Regions from separate parts of the Homo sapiens genome. Here region 1 is linked to region 2. The links come from fine-mapping of genetic effects on gene expression. A gene starts in region 2. The other region holds a variant in brackets. All regions are shown on one strand. Distances are from middle to middle. Region 1 overlaps PTER (phosphotriesterase related). Region 2 holds the start of PTER (phosphotriesterase related).

Region 1 (10,544 bases), 77 kb after region 2:
CAGGATATGATTGTGTGTCCAGAGCCATAACGTTATCTTTCTCATAAGTAGTCTCCAGATTCTTGACTTAATGGGTTCTAAGGATTCCCGGTTTTAAGTATGAGTATCTTGTCCTCTATACTCTTTCATTCTACTTCATGATTTGATAACATTGTGTTTCAAGGTCTGACAAAGGACATCTTAAAGGAATTTGTTTATCCACATGATCTGCCTTTATAGTGTGAGAAATTATATTTATCAGATAAGAAACATAGGCAAAAATTTTGGAAAATGCCCAGAAAATATCAGGGAGAAAGTGTTTCCTAAAACCTCCTATACCGTGATACTTCTTTGCAGTTGTGGATCAAGGTTTGTCACCCTAAGCTTCAGTATTGTGTGTGCATTCTGTCAAATCTTTGTCTTTTTATGTGATAATATAACTTATCTTAGATAATTCCCCTAAACTGAGTGTGTTCCAAAAGTAACTGCAGATCAGAACTTCAGGATAGTATACAAATTTCAATGAGGCAAAAAATCATAGTGGCACAAAAGTCATTACATGCACTTATAGGACAGGCATGGTTCTTCTCTGCTAGTGCTTGCATTCCTTTGACCTGCAGATACAAAGTCTATTCTTCCATTATAATTTATTTTAAAATATGTGTTCTCAGAGGGCAGGGCTTTGTGCTTGAGTTTTTTTTGTGTGTGTAGTACCCCACGTTTTGCTCACTGTAGTAGTTATTAAATATGACTCATGTACTAGGACACCAAGAAATGCTTTTGAAACAAAAAAGATACCTTTCAAATAATCAGCCTCTGGAGGAAGGCACTGTCCGTCCGTCTAGATCCACTTTAGAATCTAGACGCCAAAAAAACTATTCAGAGAATCCCATAGAAGAGCCATTGTCTGTGAGTGGCATCTTCTACCATCAAAGACCCATGGAAGTCACGACAGACACTGCCCAGAGTCCAGACACGTACAGATGGTGGCTGTCAGGAGGTGACTCACACTACAGATTCCAGCATTTAACAAAGCAAAGAGGATTTCATTTTTAGAGAATAGTCAGGAAGCTGTTCTTTAGTCCACTGACTATAAATTTAAAGGAACAGCTTATTATTTTAGCAATCTTGCTGACATGGAAAGAAGACAGAATATATTTGTATTGGTCAGTTTAATCCAATGCTCAGAGGCTACAACTAAATCAAAATTGCCATAGACTTCAAAGGGGCAAATGGTTAAAATGCTGACCAACCTTTTTTCAGTGGCTTTGTAGCTTATCAAATGCCCCTCACTTGCAGACCAACTGATTTTGCTCTCAGAATATTTTACTTGTAGTGAGATTCCTTTTGTTTCCCTATTTTAATCGCAAACAGTCCTTGATATTTTTTGGCCAGATAAAAGGAGAGAGCAAGAATGAGATCTGAAAAATGGGCCCACAGGGAGAGGCATTTGAGAGAGGATTGCTGAATACAAATCCAGAACAAAGTTATTTAGTGAAATGCCAAAATGGTCATTCATCCAAACTGGCACATCCTATTAGAAGCTATCTTTAATGCGGTATTGCCAGGCATGGTCATAAATGTCACAGGTTAGAAATTTCTGTATGCATGGAATAAGGATATGTTCCTGCTAGGATGCAGCAATATTTTTATCGTCACCACACAATATTTATTAAAGGTCTCTCAGTACACACGCCACAGTAGAAGTCAGTATCTTTACGACAAGCACAATAGGTTAATGAGTAAAAAGTTGAAAGCATCCTGAAAAGCGAAAATGAAAGACAAATGACATCTAATGAGTTAACATTTTTCACAGGGTGCGTCTCCTGGTGGAAGAGGGCTGTGAAGATCGAATTCTGGTAGCACATGACATACATACGAAAACCCGGCTGATGAAATATGGAGGTCACGGCTATTCTCATATACTCACCAATGTTGTTCCTAAAATGTTGCTGAGAGGCATAACTGAGAATGTGCTTGATAAGATTCTAATAGAGAACCCTAAGCAATGGCTAACTTTCAAATAGGATGGTTGCTTATGAATTCACACCTTGAGTATAAAACTTGCAGAGAACATTCAGCGATTTCCAGTCCACTGTGAGATATTAATCAGTTACCTAGGACTAATGACAGATCATTTCCTTCTGATGAGAACTAGGAGGGTTTGCCTTCTCTGAGACCAGCTATTACAACTGTGCCTCTAGGGAGTTACTCAGCCTAATTGAGCCCTATTATTTTAACTTAACAAAATAAATACAGAAGTACCTATTTCTAAACAATGATTTAAAGTCTATATCCCCTAAGCGGAGTTGTTGTTTTTCTCCCTAATCTATCAGCTGCACTACTTGAGAAAATTTAAAGTGTTTCTAGTTAAATTATTTCCTTCTTGAGCGATCTAATGTTTCTTGTAATATTGATGATCCTACTAATTATCCTGCTGTTCTTTAATTAATGCTTAATGAATAATATGGCACTGTAAAATAGCTTCTGCAACAAGGGAAGTTAAATTTTGAGACTTTTTTCCCCAAAGGATACTGACTGTAATACAATTACCAATTCACAATGATAAAAATATTTTGAAAGGTTAATTTTATACTGTCCACCTATCTATATATTCTTCTACTGAAATGATTTTGATATCTTTGGCTTTCCGGTATCTATTTTTGCCATACATTTTGCTGTTTTGCAAAGTTTGTATAAGAACACATAACACTACTGAATTATAAAAATTCAATCATAAAAGTCAAAATATATTACATAATATAGTTTAATGAATCATTACATTTATAATAACAAAGGCCACAATTTAATTAATTGGTAAGATATAATGCAAAAAAAAAAAGAGAAATGTTTGCCTTATGTATATTCCCTTTATTTCCTTTACCTTTTGTTTTTCCTTGGACCTAAACAGAGAAAATAATGCTTATGTATCTGAAGAAAAGGTCAGATCTATTGGAAATGACAGCCCGATACTTGAGCCTCCTCTTTAAAAGGTATCCAGCCCTGATATTTTGTGTAAATAAAATGTTTTTAAAACCTGTTAGTTAAAACACTTAGGTGATGGGCACTGCTGCTTATAAATTCATCTTTTGGTTGAATCCTCACTATGCTATTTGGTACCTAAAAATATTCTCCAAACCCTTGCTGCCAGTTCCTCTTTGATAAATATATAGTTAATTCGAAATAAAATCCATTGCAATTCATTTATGAGTTATCTTACATATCACAAAGACCAATTAGAATTAGTCATTATTCTTGATGAAGAGTCTGTTTTTAATCATAAAAATCATGACAGTTACTCAGACCCAGGCATTTCAACAGAGCTAACACCACCTTCAGATAGGCACACCATGCATAACTCTTGGGAAGTTGAGCTTTGCTAAATAAAAGATATTTCTGCTGATCAAAGATGATCAAGCTTTCTGTGTATTGGAACAGAAAGTAACAAAGAGGAATGAGCCAGGAGAACAAACTAATTCCTTTAAATAAATAAAAAAAAAAAATGCAAATGTCCTTCACCAGTAAAGCAAGCAAATTTTTAAAATCTCTGTTTTTGAAATCTACTCGTCAAAGAGTTTTCAGAGGCAATGAAAGGGGAACAGATTTTTCATTGTAATAGTGGAAGTTGTGTGATAGTTAGGAGATATCAACATGCATTTTTAATCTTTTCCTTAGATGAAAGAGATGGCTTTTGGCAGTGTGTTCTAACCAGAAAGAAAGGATTTGTATTACTCTCCAAATCTACTGTACTGTCAGCTTCACTCCACCTGAGAAAAAAGAAAAAAAAATTGATAGCTCAAATGCATGTAATTCATAAACACTGCAAAGGAGAGCCACTTGGTGTCTGCAGTCCTCATATTAACAGTCTGTCACAGAATGCAGTTAAAGTATTGATTGGCATATGGTAATAGAGCAACCATAGCCTTAACTTACAGACCTGTGAAATAAAGGGCATTTTGACCTAATACAATTAATTTTCTGGATAACTCTTAAAGAGAAGTCATTTTAACTGTTTTTGCTACTCCATATATTGTCATTCAAAATATATTTTAACCCAAAATAAGTTAAATAATTTGTGCATGTTTGTGTGTGTATATATGCATACACTTTTTTATATTAAAATTTTGAGGCTATACAGCCACTGTGCCCTGTGGAATAAAGCCATATATATAAATGTTTTATATGTATATGTTTTATACATAAATAAAACATTTCATCTAATATATATATGTGTGTGTGAGTATATGTGTGCATGTTT[AG/A]CAGATATTTGTATAAAATATAAACACTCTGTTGTCATATAGGCTATATGCGAAATTGTTAATTTTAAAATAACCTCAGGCCACAGACTTGTAGTAATCATTTGAAGGCCTCACCTAGTGTCCCCTTGGTGACGTATGCAGCAGCTCAAATTAAACCTTTGTGCATTGGGTTATGAATAATCTTTTCTTCCAAAGATGGCAAAAGCCTCGGTTTGATTTGATACTAAAGAATAAATTTCTCTGACTTTCCCAGTGAATCTAAATGTATTCAGTTGACAAAATGGACACATAAGGGCTTTTTCTAAATACCGTACATAATTACACATTTTCACACTTAGAGGGTAATCCTATGATACACTGTCAATCTCTATTTTTAAAGACTATCACCAGAAAAGAGAGAAAAGAAAATTCATATAAGAAAAAGAAAATGTGAAAAAGATCATAGGCTTGGGAATTCCCTCAAATCCAGAAAATTCCAGGTTAAGGCTTGAAGTTGAATCATTCCCAGGTCTAGCTCTAAGGTTAACAAGAGTACAAGGCAAACAATTTCTTTGGGGACAAGCAGCATTATTTCAATTAGACCTTCTCCTGCAGGGCAAAAATCATTCTTCCCCACACTATGAATGGACTCCAAGTATCATAATAAGCAGGTAAACTCACAAGAACCAAAGCTGACATATGGATAAAAGCAGCAAGATCACAGTACACCAAAGTATCATATATATAGAAGAAATAATTCAATGTCTTAGATTTGTCTATAAAAATTTGTGATCTATATAGGACTTCATTCACATGGACACTAACGATAAGGAGTATTTGCTTTGGCGGTAGTGGATCACACATCTGCTTATCTTGCTTTGATATTTTTTACATAATGTTTCTGAGTGATACAGATGTGAGTCAGGTAGCATTTGATTTCCCCACATATACACAACTGAGGTGCCCTGCCATTGGCATCCCCTGGGATCCTTGATTCACTGACGTTAGCCATACGAATCCAGTGTTCAAACTCAGAATAATAAGCTTAGTTTCTGCATTATCAGTCAGCATAAATAATAAATCCAGAAAACGTGCTGTATTTGTTGTTGTTTCCTCCATGGGCTTTCCCGCCATCTAATTTGATATAGACTTCATCTCCCGGCTCCAAATGAAGAACCACACTGTTACTGGCATAGTCGTAATTCTGATCAGCATCTTGGGCAATTGCACTAGCACGCACCTATGTGAAACAGACAAGAATTAGGATGCGTAAATGAGAATTCTCAAGTTTTCTTTTTTGCCATTCATGTAGCATCACAAGCTGACTTGCTGCCATAGTACAGAATTTAGCATAGCAAAGTCCATGTTGACCTCAGAGCTTTATGAGGATAGTGCTGTGGCAGTTTCCGCTACGTTAGTGAGAAGGAGGACAGAAAGGGACAAAATAGTGCTTCAGTGGGGACCATTCTGGCAGTCTTATCTAACTACACATTCTAAACTATGCATACAATTTATTATCTTCCTGTATCACTCGTTTTTCTAACTCCTTCGATCCCTATGCCCAATCACATTTTGAAATGAAACTAATAGTATTTTTTGCATTTTAATTTAAGCCAGATAGCAATATTCTAATCAGCTGTTTATGAGTACAGAAGTTCAAGTCTAAGTTCAGCTGTTCACCACAATTATTAGAAAATTGAGGTATGTAATAGCTAAAAATACCCAGGAAAATACCAACTCCTCTACTACTTACAAAGAAAAAAAAAAAAAAGAAAAAGTCTTTTGATTTAGGGCTTTCCAAATCTAATTCATGTAAAGCCCCCTTTACCAGGCTGCTTCAGAAGCTTAGCTCATTTATACATCTTTGATTATATCACCTGAGTTTTCAGAGTTCTTTTTTCCATCGTGTCTTTTTATTACTTAACTATGACATGTGCATTTAAATCAAGAATTTAACCTCAACATATCTAAAAGTTAAAGAAAGGACTAAATTTTCATGCTCTGAGGCCTCTCAAGTTTCAAGAATTTTTGAATGATTTCGTTGAATATCCACTTACACTTAGGAGATTCTAAATATGTGGCTTGATTTGAGGGCAGAGGCTGCTTATAATCTGCCCATGGTAAGCCTGTGATCTCATTAGTGAGTTGATAGACATTTACAAACAGTCAAATTGCCTATCATCTCATGCATTGTGGACATTCTGTCAGATCCTTAGCTCAAATTAGGCTTCATATTCATTTAGATATATTGTGATTCTGCCTTGGAAAATCTTTCAACAGGCAGACTTAGATTTGATTTATTTCAGTAAAACATCTTCTACTTTGTGGCTTGTTTCATTTCTATTCCACTATAATGATATTTCCCTGAATAACATAGCAAGTGATTTAGTGGTTTTGTAAACCTGCACTATGTAATAATGCATGATTTGGGGTACAATATGCTGGATTTTATCACTTGGCAAAATGAGAGAAATGAGACAGAAGTCAAGAATTTCCATGCATTTCTTTCAAAATTTAAATGATGAGTTTTCCAATTAAATTTTCTTGTGATATAGTCTCACGTTAATGCTGAAATGTTAAAAAAAGAAGACTCTTTAACACTGCTGAACTTGTAAAGTCATTTGAGTAGTATCTTTAAAGTGTCTTTCTGGGTATCACATAGCAAAAGGAGAAAATGGCTTAAAGGATTTAGAATTGCTTAACGCTGTACTAACAGGCACTAATATAATGAAAGCAATATACCATGTAATTATGCTTGGAAGCACTGACTCCAATATATATGCCAATTTAGTAAAGTGGTCCGTTTTGACCATTAAATAATGACGCAGTTTGACTTCATAATATTTTCTAAAGATTAATCATGAGTTTGTAGGAGTTGAATGCTTTGATTCATTAATTTCATCTAGCCATTAATTCCCAGGGAAACAAATCTACAAGAAGGATATTGCTATTATGACTTGTGTTTTTTTCTCATCTTTGGATTTTTAATGGTGAAAAAAATTAAAAACAAAATATTCATGAGCTATATTAGTAATACATTAGTTATCAACCCATAATATACTCCTCAGCTATTACTAATAACCAGACATATTTTATTCAGTGCTTTGGGTATTTAGGACATGTTCTATGGTTACTGGGCTTTAACATGGTTTTCTACATGAAGGTATTGGAGAAACAGGACATACTAAAATTACTTGATTTAGACACAATAATCCTTTTAAAAATATAATGCCATTTTTATTCTCCAGGGTGTAACCACAAAACCGAGTGAACGTCACCATTTTTATTCAGTAGGCGTAACCACAAATTCCTGCGAATGCATTAGAGTGATTCCACAGACTGAAAGGTTACCCTCACAGTTTCTACCACCTTTGTTGGATCAAGCCAGTGTGGTTGCTTTTTAATGAATGTAATTCTGTAAGATTTTAACCTATACTGTACCGTAAGACTGTCCCAATTAAATAATTGCCATACTCCAGTGTACCTGGCATGATTTTGGTATGGCTGCTCACCTGATCCTACTCTAAAGATATAACAGGACTTGAAATTTCAAGCTCTAGTATTCAGCTCAGTGACTTCAACAATTCTTTCAAGCCATCAAACTATTGAGGAAGGCAATGTGTTCACCCTGGAGGCTGTTTCCAGATTCCTAAATGTACAGTGATTTCAGCATTCTGTCTGGGAATAAGATCCATCCTTCCTTCAGCGCAATCAACCGATTTCTACCTGAATTTACTCTAATATCTTTTCTTATTACAAGATAACTATTTAGATTCTGCTTTATGTTTAGTCCGTATTTCTTTAACCCTAAAAAGATTATGAATTTGACATGTCATTGATCTCTCTAATAAGCGAATACCAACCCACAAACCACTCATCCTTTTAAAAATATTTCATGGGCATCGGTGCCATAACTAATAAATTTTTAAGAGTACCAACTGGTCTTTAATTATTTTATGCTTTTAATCCTGAAACAGTATTAGTTTTCATTCGAGTGGCTTATTTATTATAGTGGCATTAGAGTGATTGTATTCAAATAGCAATTTTTCTTCATGTTTTCTGCTAAAAGGATTATCAACATTAAAGAGATTTCCTCTTTCCAAATGTAAAGCTATTTGAGTTGAACTTTTACCTTTAATATGCACTGTCATGGGCTTTCAACAAATGGTAGGATTAAATTTAGGTTGATGGCTTCATGGGGAGTATGAGAGCTGCGGTCATTTTAGGGATATGTTTCTGTGTCTGCAATAGGTTTCATAGTTTTAGCATTATCTTATTAGTGAGGATCTATCATTAGAGATCATATTTATGGTGACATTTGTAATTTAATTAATTGCTACTGATGTTCTCGTAATTTCATTTTCATTGTACTTCTGTGGAATCATAAACAAAAGGTTAAGTGGCACATCAGGTTAATTTACTGGTCTTTGATGTTTCCATCTGTGATCTTACATTCTACACAAAGTATAAATAAAATGGCTCTCATATGGTTACAGTCCAGAAGCATTTCTCTCTCTTAGAGGGAACTGCATTTTTAGTTTAATTTTTGTGCTTCTCAAAATCCACTTAATCCATAGAACATTACACTGACATGGATCTCTGAGTTTCTGTTTTATGAAAAATTAAGTCAGCTCAGAGAGGGAACCTGCCATTCTAAGAAGTGATCAGACCAGAATATAATTGAAAAGCAAGAGTGAAGTATTATTTAAAATTAATAAAAAGATTTTAAAAGATTTCTCATTTGTAACTGCCTGCAGACTGGACTTGACAAAATAGTTCTAATCTAGAGATAAAATTCCTTAACTGTAGTAGTGTAGTAACCATTTTCCAAAATAGTCCACACTGAACTAAAAAAAAATGTTTACCACTATAGATTTATTTTTCTGAATTACCTGTTGCATACCTTTTGCAGAAGTAGCAGCTTAATATTACCAATGAAAAGACTTATACATTATAAGGTCAGCTGTTTTACCTTACTATTTTTCCTGATCCTCATGGAATGTGTGTGCTAGTGTGATACAAAGGAAGATTTTACACCCCAAACAGTGAAATAATTTTAAAAACAAAACGCACATAGAACACCTACATGGTGTTATTTTCTTCAAATCAGTGTAATATACACAGGCTCAGCAGTCTAGACATCAACATTTAAACTAATTTAAATGTATTAATCCCTTCTTTTTTCATGCAATTGCAATTTCCAGATATTTAAAGATGTGAGCATTTTTACACATTTGCTGATAAAATTGGAATCATTTCATTTTAATTGATACCTCTAAAAATCATCTCTTCAGCCCGATTGTATTTTCCAGACCTGACCTTTGAGTCAGAAGAGAGCCAATTTGCAAATAAAGGGGTGTCTCATGGCTGCCTGCTGAGGGACTGTTCATAAGCCTTTTTGTGAGGGTGATTCAATAGCTCCATTCTGGTACAGTGAGTCCTGCCCGTTTTAGCCATTTGCCTATAACTGTTTTACTGTTCTGTGAATAATTTTTATTTATCTTAATATTATTTTCATGCATAATAACTATAATAAACAACCCTGTCAGTGCCTCCTGGTGGCCATTTTTCCTCTTTTTGTTATATGTGTCCTGAGGGTCCCTTAAGCTATTTGTAGGATAGGGTAGAGAATAGGACGTTTTTTGTCTTTTTTCTCTCTTACGCATTTAGGACTTTTTTTTTTTTTTTTTTGGTCTTTCACTTTTGAAAGAATTCTGACACTGAAGTAGGTCTTCCGAATCCTGCTTGAATGGTGCTTAACAGAAACCTGGGTTATAGCTAAGAATCTCTGAATGTCCAGGGGTCGAGTTACCTAAAGCCCAATAGACCTCGTTAAGTCAAAGTTGCTGCAGGAGAGGAGGTCTCTTGATGGCGATGCCAGGGTCGCGGGCCATCCCCTATGCCACTCAATAAGCAAAGTTAAAACCGAGAAACTCAGCCCACACCGCAGGCTGCAGGCTGCAAGGCCTCGCCTCAGTGGCTACTGATTCAGCGTGCACAGAAGGTCCCATTACACTTTTAGGTAGTTACAAATATTATTTTCCTCCTTTGACTAAGAGATCAAACAAGCTTCGGTTTTGCAATGACCTCGAATTTCTCCACAGTAAAGTGGCCCCAGCAGAATACTGCAGACCCATGCGTAGCCCTTGTAGCGGCGCCGACCGGCTCAGGGAATCAAATCCTCTTGGCCGGCTGGTCCAGAGGCCGATAGACCCGGGGCTGGGCTCGAACCGGTCGCCCCCCAGGCCACCTGCCTGAGCGTCCTCCGACTCCATAGAGAGTTTGGGTTCTGAGTCTGGCTGCGCGCTGTGTTTCACCGCATGAACC
Region 2 (10,544 bases):
GAATGATTTAAATTTCACTTTTCCTTTGCTTCTAAGTGAAGTAATAATATACATTGAATACTTAGTTGTATTTTCTGGGGGGTACAAAGAATAGGAATTTGATAGAAAACGATCTGTGTGTTCAAAGTTCTGTTCTAGTTCTCTTGTGACATTAGTATCTAATAGGTGTCCTATAAATGATAGGAATGGCTTATCACACCATGACTCAAAATTAAACCAAGAAAATCTCTGCAGCACTGTAAATTTCAGCTTCCAATTAACAATTAAAACCTAACAGCAACATCATTGATAGAATTGACATCATAGGTCCTGCTTTTTTTTCCTGCTGCTTATCTGATAATTATCTGGATTATTTTCTATTTTGCCCTCCCCAGATTGTTTCTGTAGACTACTTTTGTGTAAATATTTAAAACAACTAACTAGGGTGATGAAAACCTGGGTGTTTTCTAGAATTTTAACCCAAATAGCAGGGGCTTTGGATGTTTGCTTTTGATTTCGTTCTTTTTGCCAATTTAGTGTTCCCGGGTACAGGTACTGTCAAAATTCAAAGATACTATGAAAAGGAAAAGCAAGTACTGTAGAAATGAGAGTGCATTTGAACTAAACCTTTAACTGAGAGATCGATTTGGAAACTCGGTTCCTTAATAATGTGATTTTCAACTTTGCTACTTCATCACAGACATACGACAGTACATTGATATTCTTGGTTTCAAAAATTATTTCCAAGTTAAGCTTCTCTAGGAAGAAAGACTGAAAAATAAAGTTGGGCACAAGCTTGATGCCAGATTATCATGTTTAACAGCAGAACATCCTCAAGAACCCTTTTCACCCATTCTTGTCTGCCTATCCCAGGGCTAGTAGATTTTGAGTCCGGTAGTGAAGAATGTTTATTTTACTTTCTAAAAGATTCAGTAGCATTTAGTGTTTAACTAACAACAGTGCTTAGTGAAATAGGATTACAGTATGTACACAGGTGCTATATGCTAAAAAGTTTTCCATTCTTGTGCATTGGATTTACATGATTTTCTCCACTGTTCTTTGTTTGTTTGTGTTTGTTTGTTTTTGTTTTTGCTTTTTGAGATGGAGTCTCGCTGTACCTCCCAGGCTGGAGTGCAGTGGCACGATCTCGGCTCACTGCAATCTCCACCTCCCAGGTTTAATCTATTTTCCTGCCTCAGCCTCCTGAGTAGCTGAGACTACAGGTGCACGGCATGACCTTTGGCTAATTTTTGTTTTGTTTTGTTTTGTTTTTTGAGATGGAGTTTCGCTCTGTTGCCCAGCCTGGAGTGCAGTGGCGTGATCTTGGCGCAATACATCCTCTGCCTCCCGGGTTTAAGCAATTCTCTGCCTTAGCCTCCCGAGTAGCTGGGATTACAGGCACCCACCACCACACCTAGCTAGTTTTGTGTGTGTGGGTGTGTGTGTGTATGTTTTTTAGTAGAGACAGGGTTTCACCATCTTGGCCAGGCTGATCTGGAACTCCTGACCTTGTGATGCACCCGTCTCGGCCTCCCAAAATGCTGGGATTACAGGCATGAGCCACTGCACCTGGCCTGTTTTTTTTGTTTGTTTGTTTTTTTAGGGAAGATAGGTTTTCACCATGTTGGCCAGGCTGGTCTCAAACTCCTGGCCTCAAGGGATCTGCTACCCTGGCCTCCCAAATTGTTGGGATTACAGACGTGAGCCACAACACCTGGCCTCTGCCTTTCTTTGAACACACCTGTAGGCAATAGTTTGAGAAAGTTCCTGAAATAAATCTCCTGCATATTAATTTGAAATTTCTTTGTAGCTGCTTCTTTCAAAAAAGAAATAAAATCTCTTTACTAGTATCTTTTTAAGGAGTAAAGCCACAGAAATAAGAGCGTGCATTTGAAATCCATCACAAATCTTGCTCAGTGGATTTACTGTGGGCAGTGGAGAATTTAGTAACTTCCATAAAGAAAAACTAAAGTTTACTTTTCAATTTTTTTTTTTTTTGAGACAGGGTCTCTCTCTGTCACTAGGTTGAAGTGCACTGGCATGATCTCAGCTCACTGCAATCTCCACCTCCCAGGTTCAAGCAATTCTCATGCCTCAGCCTCCTGAGTGGCTGGGACTACGGGCATGCACCACCACACCCGGCTAATTTTTGTATTTTTAGTAGAGATGGGGTTTTACCATGTTGGCCAGGCTGGTCTCCAATTCCTGGCCTCAAGTGATCTGCCCACCTTGGCCTCCCAAAGTGGTGGGACTACAGGCGTGAGCCACTGCGCCTGGCCTGAAGTCATTTTTTAACAAGGACCTCATGTATCATTTAACATCTAGCAGCATAGACTACTAAAATACGTAACATTATAAATAATGGACTTTCGAGCCTCTCCTTACCACCCACTGTCGGGTACACATTTATATGGCTCCATGCTTGTAGCACACACAAAGTGGGAGCCAGCACTGAAATCACTCCAGAAGCCTCCCTGGATCCATCTCCTCATTACAGAATCTCAGTGTGAGCCCGTCATTGCTACTAATATCCAACTGTCCCAGCACTCATGCCTCTGCAGTTCTTAACCCCTACAGTTATTCTTGTCTTTCCTACTCTTGGGCCCTATTTTTATCCCTTTTCTGTTTCTAGGATTTACCCAGCCACCCTCCTTAAGAACCAATTTTTTCCTCAGTATCTTCTCCCTGACTGTCCCTTACCAACCAACCCCTTTTCTAAATGACTTCTTGTACTTTTACCCTTAAAAAACAAAAAACAGAGAACGAGACCTGTATATCCTTTTCTCCTCCTTTTTTTCTGATTTAAATGAATTAATTTATTTCTATTAATCTCCTATCAAAGCACCCCATTCTCTCCTGGTGCGGTGGCTCACGCCTGTAATCCCAGCACTTTGGGAGGTCAAGGCAGGTGGATCAGTTGAGGTCAGGAGTTCGAGACCAACCTGGCCAGCATGGCAAAACCTCATGTCTACTAAAATTACACAAAATTAGCTGAGCATGGTGGGGCGTGCCTGTAATCCCAGCTACTCAGGAGGCTGAGGCAGGAGAATCCCTTGAAACCAGGAGGTGGAGGCTGCAGTGAGGTGAGATTGCACCACTGCACTCCAGCCTGGGCAACAGAGCAAGACTCTGTCTCAAAAACAAACAAACAAACAAACCAAAAAAATTCCCCATTCTTTACTAAGAAGGCAAGTGTAGTGACTGATATCAACTAATCTGGGTCCCTAGTCCTATCCTTGAACAAGGTGCTTGCCTAAGTTTGTTTTCTTGTCTGTAATTGGAGGGAAATAGCTCCTGCCACATGCAGGTTGCTCAAAATCTTAAACAAAATAACATACACCCATTACAAAACCTGGTAGAGTTGGCCCCGATAAACATCATCTATTAATATTATTATTAAAACTCTACTTTCCTTTGAAATGACATCTGTAGCTTCTGCCCATCTGCATACCTATTCTCTTTTTTCTCAGAATTCAGGATAAAATTAATTGACTAGGCCTTGTGCTGTGGCTTATGCATGTAGTCCTAACACTTTGGGAGGCTGAGGTGGGAGGATCCTTTGAGCTTAGGAGTTTGAGACCAGGCTGGGCATCATAGCGAGACCTCCATCTCTACAAAAATTACAAATATTAGCTGAGTGTGGTGGTGCACACCTGTAGTCCCAGCTGCTCAGGAGGCTGAGGCAGGAGGATCCCTTGAGCCCAGGAGTTCAAGGCTGCAGTGAGCTATGACTGCACCACTGAAATCCATCCTGGGCAACAGAGCCATTTCAAAATAATAATAATAATAATTGATGACAGTGTAATATGGTTGGGGTTCAGAAAATGATACCCCAAAATGAAGGCCTTAGAAGCAGCTCTCTCTAACCTCATGTCCTCCTGCCTCTGGCCCCTCATTCTAGAAACTGGAATCCCTCTTCCCCAAGGTGATTCACAGAAGCCAGAACCCCTCATCCCCAAAGCCAAGCATAAAACCTAAAAGTTTGACTCTGCGTGTCCCCTGCCTTTCTGTGTCAAAACTGGCGGTAAAGAAATTCTCTGCCCTGCTTTGTTTGACTGTAGGTCATAAGACCCCCATTCCAGAAAGGATCCTGCTCTATACCCAGAAGGAAGGAACACTGCACAGAAAAGCCAAAAAGAATCTAAACAGACAGGGCTTGCTCACTTAGTCTATTGGCATTAGCTCAGACCCTTTTTATGCCATCGTAGTATCTCTTAGGTTGGTGCAGAAGTAATTGCGGTTTTTGCCATTAAAAACCGCAATTACTTTTGCACCAGCTGAATACATGGCGGTCCATACTTTATTGAACCTAAGCGAAAAAATGGACCGTTTCCCCTGCATCTTTGGGTTTTCATTCTGAAGGCTCCCGGATCACATAAAGTTACGATCTAGTATATTTGTATGCCTTTTCTACTGTGAAACTGTCTTTTGTCAGTTGATTTTCAGCAAACTTTCAGAGGACGAAGGAGAGGTTTGCCCTTGGCCCCCTACAATACCTAAAGGTATGACTCTTTACTGTGGCAGCTGCTCCAAGCATCATGTTTTGCCAACAGACTCACACATACTAAGTTTATTTCAGTCACAGCAAGTACCAGGGCCAGTTCAAGTGCTCTAGCACGGCACTCTAATTCTAAAGAGAAGGAAACGCGGCACCGGGGCAGGAAACAGTGACAAGTGGGAACACAAAAACCAAAGTTCTCCGTATGCAGCATGAGGATCCAGAACCCACTGTGACATCAAATTGCCAGAGCACCACCTCCGATTTATTCTTGGGGAAAACCAAAAGAGCTACGGAATGCTCCCTTGTTCCAGACTGTTCTATGGAGAACTGGGATCTGGGGAAAATGCAACAGTTTCTTTCCGTTTGGGGATCTAGCCCCGAATTTTTTTCATTCAGCCAAACTACCGACAGTCAGACAGCGCCTGCAGGAGGGTGTGGCCAGGCAAAAACGCGGGGAACGGCCCCGGACCAGGGTGGGGCGTGGCAAGGGTTTGAAGGGCGTGTCCTACGAAGAGGTAGGGCTTGGCAAGGACCCACGGGGCGTGTCCTAGGACTCGGTGAGGGCGTGACCTCGGGCCAGGGGCGGGGAGAGAACCAGAGGGCGAAGTGGGAGGGCACAGGGGAGACTAAAAAGGCCAGGGAAGTTGGCCTGCCGGAAGTTCCCAGGGAGAAGGCAGCGCGTTGTACCCGAGGTAAGGCTTCTTGGAGTCAGAGCAGGAGCCGGAACTGTGGGCCCAGTAGGAAGAGTGGGGCCCGACGGCGGAGGCCGCGCGGCCAGGGTTCGCTGCAGAGCTCCACGCGAGGGTCCTGCCGGAAGGAAGGATTTTCTAGCCGCTGCGCTTGGGCCCTGCCGCCTCTCCTTAAGTGCTTGAGGGACGTTGCAAAGAGCGCCAGTCCCGTGTGGCGCCAGCTCCCTGTGGCTCGACAGCAATGCCCGGGGGCGTCATCGGGTAGCTGTGCTAAGCCTCCTTTAATAAGCTTTTTTTTTTTTTTTTTTTTAGATTCAGGGTCTGGCTCTGCTTCCCAGGCTAGAGTGCATTTGGCGCGATCACAGCTCACTGCAGCCTCGACCTCCTGAGCTCAAGCGAACTTCCTGCCTCAGCCTCCTGAGCTTCCTGAGTAGCTGCGACTACAGGCACGTGCCACCATGTCCGGTTATTTTTGTATTTTTTGTAGAGAGTGTCTCGCCATGTTGCCCAGGCTGGTTTCGAACTCCTGGGCTCAATCAGTCTGCTGCCTCGGCCTCCCAAAGTGCTGGCATTACAGGTCTATATTTTTTGACAGTTTATAAAAGCCAATTACCAGCGGTCATATGTCTGAGTCCTGTGCACTCTTGCTTAATCCACTCTGCAGCCCTGTGAAGGATTCTAGTGATAACGACAAAGCTAAGGTACAGAAAAATTAGGCCACACTGCTGGAAAGTTTAGAGATGGAAACAAAGTTTAGAGGTGGAGTCTTTCTGACTCCACAGCCAGTGTGCTGTTACTCTCTTAGACTACCTCATTCTTTGTACATCCCAAGTCAACAGGAACTAAAGGTATACCCTTACATAGGCAGTAAGAGGGGTTGCTGATTTAAAGAACTTTGGACCCAGAAAGAGTAGAGCCCTATTCTAGTTCTGGTTCCAGCTCAGTGACTTTCTACAAGTTGGTTTTCTTTTGCTTTTTTTAAAGACAGAGTCTCGCCCTTGCCCAGGCTGGAGTGCAGTGGTGCGATCTCGGCTCACTGCAACCTCCGCCTCCCGGGATCAAGCGATTCTCTTGCCTCAGCCTTCTGAGTGGCTGGGACTACAGGCGCGCTCCACCACACACAGCTAATTTTTGTATTTTTAGTAGAGACGGGGTTTCACCATACTGGCCAGGCTGATCTCGAACTCCTGACCTTGTGATTCACCCACCTCGGCCTCCTAAAGTGCTGGGATTACAGGCGTAAGCCACCGCGCCCGGCCTCTTGCTTTTTAAGACTAGGTCTCATTATTTCACCAAAGCTGGAGTGCAGTGGTGCTATCACAGCTCACTGCAACCTTCACTTCCCCCGTTCAAGTGATCCTCCCAGCTCAGTCTCCCACAGGTGCACACCACCACGCCCGGCTAGTTTTTATTTTCTGTTTTTTGTTTTTTTTTTTGTATTTTTGGTAGAGACGGGGTTTTGCCATTTTGTCCAGGTTGGTGTCAAACTCCTGGGCTCAAATGATCTGGCTGCCTCGGCCTCCCAAAGTGCTAGGATTACAGGCGTGAGCCACTGCGCCTGGCCTGCCTGTTTTCTAGACACATTAAGGTGAGTGGTCTCAGGCCAGGCGCGGTGGCTCACACCTGTAATCCCGGCACTTTGGGAGGCTGAGGCAGGTGGATCACTTGAGGCCAGGAGTTCGAGACCAGCCTGGCCAACATGTGAAACCTCTTTTCTTCAAAAAATTAGCTGGGCATGGTGGTGGGCATGCCTGTAATCCCAGCTACTGGAGAGGCTGAGGCACGAGAATTGCTTGAACCTGGGAGGCAGAGGCGGCTGTGAGCTGAGATCACACCACTGCACTCCAGCCTGGGTGTCAGAGCAAGACTCTGTCTCAAAAAAAAAAAAAAAAAAGGTAAGTGGTCTCTAGGTCGCTAGTGGATGTAATAATCTATGGATTTATGAGGATAAGATCCTGATTTTACCATTTAATGATATTTTGGGCCAGTTTTTTTCCTTTTTAATTGGGCAGCCCTCAAACCAGAATAGATTGAGAGGGTCTTCCAGTTTTGGGTCATATTTGCTGCTGAAATTACAAGGTAGTCAGGAAGGGTCTGTTTATTCAATCAAAGATCAATAAATGTGTATTTTGGAGGTCAGTAGCGGAGTATCCAGCCAGAAGGTGGCTAGTGAGACAGGAGGAAAATCAGGACAGTGGCTTTTCTGGAGGGACTTAGGGAAAGATCAGTTTCACTGGGCAAATTTCCCCTTCCCTGTGAAGGACAGAAAATACCTTCAATATGGCTAAAGTGAGAAGCATTTCTGAAAAAAAATGCAATTTAATATCCTTTGAAGTGTCAGTAAATTTTGAGCCAAATAGAAGCAGAGAGTAAGAGAACACAAAAATAGATCATTTAGAATCTGGAGAAGTACATGACCGTGTACTCAGTGCCAGGACTTGGCCATAGGATCCCTGTGACTATTTTAAGTTGAGTAAGCAGCCCTGATGCAAGAATTTTAGAGATTGTCTCAGTTTTAAGCTTAAAGACAAAATGATGAACTGTATAGCATGAGAGGAGCTTGGTAAATGTCCACCTTTGCTTCCATGTGCAAAGTGTTCATACAGGACATACATACATACAGGACCCATTCATACAGGAGGAATGTTTATCCTTAAATATCTTCTTTTTAAAATATTTATTAGTTTATTTATTTTTGTAGAGATGGGGGGTCTTGTTTTGTTGCCCAGGCTGGTCTTAAACTCCTGGGCTCAAGTGATCTTCCCACCTCGGCCTCCCAAACTGTTGAGATTACAGGCGTGAGCCACGGCAGCCAGCCAACTTCAAATCTATTAAATGCCCTAGTAAGCCATATAGTAATAATATTGAGAATTTCTGATCAAGCTCGAGTCTGCTCAGTATCCCTATGAACTTGACTGAGGTAGTTGTTGAATATATTTTCATACATCAAATGTGGCTTTGTTCTGTTTTCTTTAGCTGTTGTTTCTAGTGTATTTTCAGTGGTCCAGGTTTTCCTAACAAGATTTTTTTTTTTTTTTTGTGGCAGGGTCTCACTCTATTGCCCAGACTGGAGTGCAGTGGCCCTATCTTGACTCACTGCAACCTCTGCCTCCCAGGTTTAAGTGATTCTCCTGCATCAGCCTCCCAACTAGCTGGAAATATAGGCATGCACCACCACGCCCAGCTAATTTTTTTGTATTTTTGGTAGAGACGGGGTTTCATCATGTTGATCAGGCTGCTCTTGAACTCCTGACCTCAGGTGATCCACCTGCCTCAGCCTCCCGGCATGAGCCACCACGCCCGGCCCTTAATAACACTTTTATAACAAAAGGCTTCTCATTCATAGACATCATCTCTTAAAAAAAAGAAAAAGAAAAAAGAATAAGAAAAATAAAATATCTGGTTCCATTTGGCATAAACTGGCTCTGTGGTTGTACCTATTTTGTCAAAACAATAACCACCTGAGTACAAATACCTCTGTGCCTGCTCAGCGTGAGAGCTGTGAATGTTAGCCATTTCCCTGTCTCCTTCCAGGCAGGTATGTCCACGTGACTTGTTTGGCTAACGAAACGCAAGTGGAGTGACCTGTGTCACTTCCAGGTAAAACTGTGTTAAAAGCCAGTGAAAGATTTGTCACAATCACTTTCCCTCTGCCGCAGTGACCATCCAGATAGAGGCAGTGGTCTCAGCCTGGGTCATAGAGGACAGTGAGCGGAGCCCCCTGCCTTCCTGTGTTAGACGTATTCGATGAGCTAGAAATAAACTTTTGTTGTGGTCAGACCCTGAGATTCGGGGATTTGAGTGTTACTGTGGCCTAGCCTGGTCAAGCCTGCGTAATGAATATTATCAGATAAGCTGCATGTATGCGGGGATTTCTGGCTCTGGTTTACCAGATACCTTGGGAGCTGTGGGGAGGGCCCTGAAAGAGGCTTGTCCTATGAATCATGCTCCTTTTACTGTGTGGGAGATGGCAGGTGTGCTGTTCCCATCATGCTCCAGTCTGCTTTGTGATTTTAATCAAGAGTGGCAAAAATGGCGTTTAGATGTTTAATTGCATTCTGTAAGGGCAGACCATGTTAAAGTGTAAAATAGGTAAAGGCTGTATGCCTGGAAGGGATAAGAATCAAGGCTTTCATTTTTACTTTGAAAAACACAATTTATATATTTTTAACAATTTTCAGTGCACTTCCAAGTTTTCCAATACAGAGGAATGTTCGTGGGTGAGTTGTGAAAAGATGATTCTTCCCAAATGCAGTTATCAGTGGATACATTTCAGAAATTATTTTGTCACTGAAGGACATTTGAAATGAATCATCCGTACTTACCATTGACTAATACGTTTTTTTTCAGGCAGCTTCAAAGAGTATTTTAAATATGATTTCCTGGCTATCTGATTTCGGATCTAAGAGTATCAGACTTAGGTTTTGCTGTTAATGTCCTAGGGGCAGTGTGTTCACTCTTTTATTCTGAGTTAAACAGAAGGCAAGCCGGGAGCATTGTGCTTTGGACAGAGCTGTGCTGCATTCTTAGGGGACACTGGCTATAAATCCAGTCTCCCTAGAGGTTAACAATCAAAGTTCTCCCCTTATTATAGTCAGGCGAGTGATATGATGATGATAAATTGCTTGGACGTGACTGGCCCAAGCACTAGTGTGATGAATTATGTTGTTCGGGGCATGACCGAAGATCTTCTATTGTCAGCTGGCAATGCTAAGTATTGGCAGTATTCATAAATAGCCTTTTGCCAATGGTGGTCTCTGCTTTACATATTAAATTCTCTGTTTTCACAGGTTGTGGTTCTTAGTCATCTGTGTCCTCCACTGAATTCACTTACATAATCAGCCTTTTTTTTTTTCCTGTTCCCTACTTATTAAACGGGTGGGATGTGCTCACTTGTGTATGGTAAACACTGAGTTCTTTCTTCACAGAAACTGTTAAAAGAGTAATTATTAGTTCTTTTTACTAAATCCAGAGTAATAGCAACTTATCTTGCAGTGGCTTAATTGGGTAATTATTTGGTGTGTGAAGAGCACTTTGAAGAGAATATTGGTAAATATTGTTAATTTCGTGCTCTTTTATGTAACTGAAAGCCCATTGCGACCACAAAATCCTTGGTGTTACTGTGTACCCACAAAATTTCTTTCCTGATGTGGCTTACTATTTTCCAAATTATTTGTTTGTTGATTTTTAAAAACATTTTTTAAATTTTCATAAATTCTCAAAGTTATCTCATGTTTATGCCTTGACAATTCGACATGTCTCATCTCCTACATTCTTGCATATCTGAAAGGTTAGATGTTATCAGTCTTGCTCTCTAACAGTTTGGAGGACAGATAAAGCCCGACCATGTAATTGAGAAATTGAAATAAAGATTT

Evidence for each region. PIP is the estimated chance that this variant, and not a neighbour inherited with it, causes the effect.
Region 1: its variant is fine-mapped to the expression of PTER in skeletal muscle (GTEx, PIP 0.91). The same link has a PIP of 0.9 or more in whole blood.

The regions. Positions count from the first base shown.
Region 1 is chr10:16,509,251-16,519,794 of GRCh38, forward strand. PTER (phosphotriesterase related) reads left to right here. Exons shown (of 5, transcript NM_001261836.2): 5 at 1,796-4,495. The coding sequence ends at 2,006. C1QL3 (complement C1q like 3) reads right to left here. Exons shown (of 2, transcript NM_001010908.2): 2 at 4,484-5,457. The coding sequence ends at 5,278. Among named protein-coding and RNA genes, the nearest start is that of C1QL3, 7.4 kb to the right of the region's middle. RefSeq lists an enhancer at 10,179-10,544. The variant AG/A (reference allele first, on the strand shown) is at 4,238.
Region 2 is chr10:16,431,876-16,442,419 of GRCh38, forward strand. PTER (phosphotriesterase related) reads left to right here and starts at 5,135. Exons shown (of 5, transcript NM_001261836.2): 1 at 5,135-5,172. RefSeq lists a silencer at 5,010-5,059 and enhancers at 5,480-5,659, 5,680-5,729.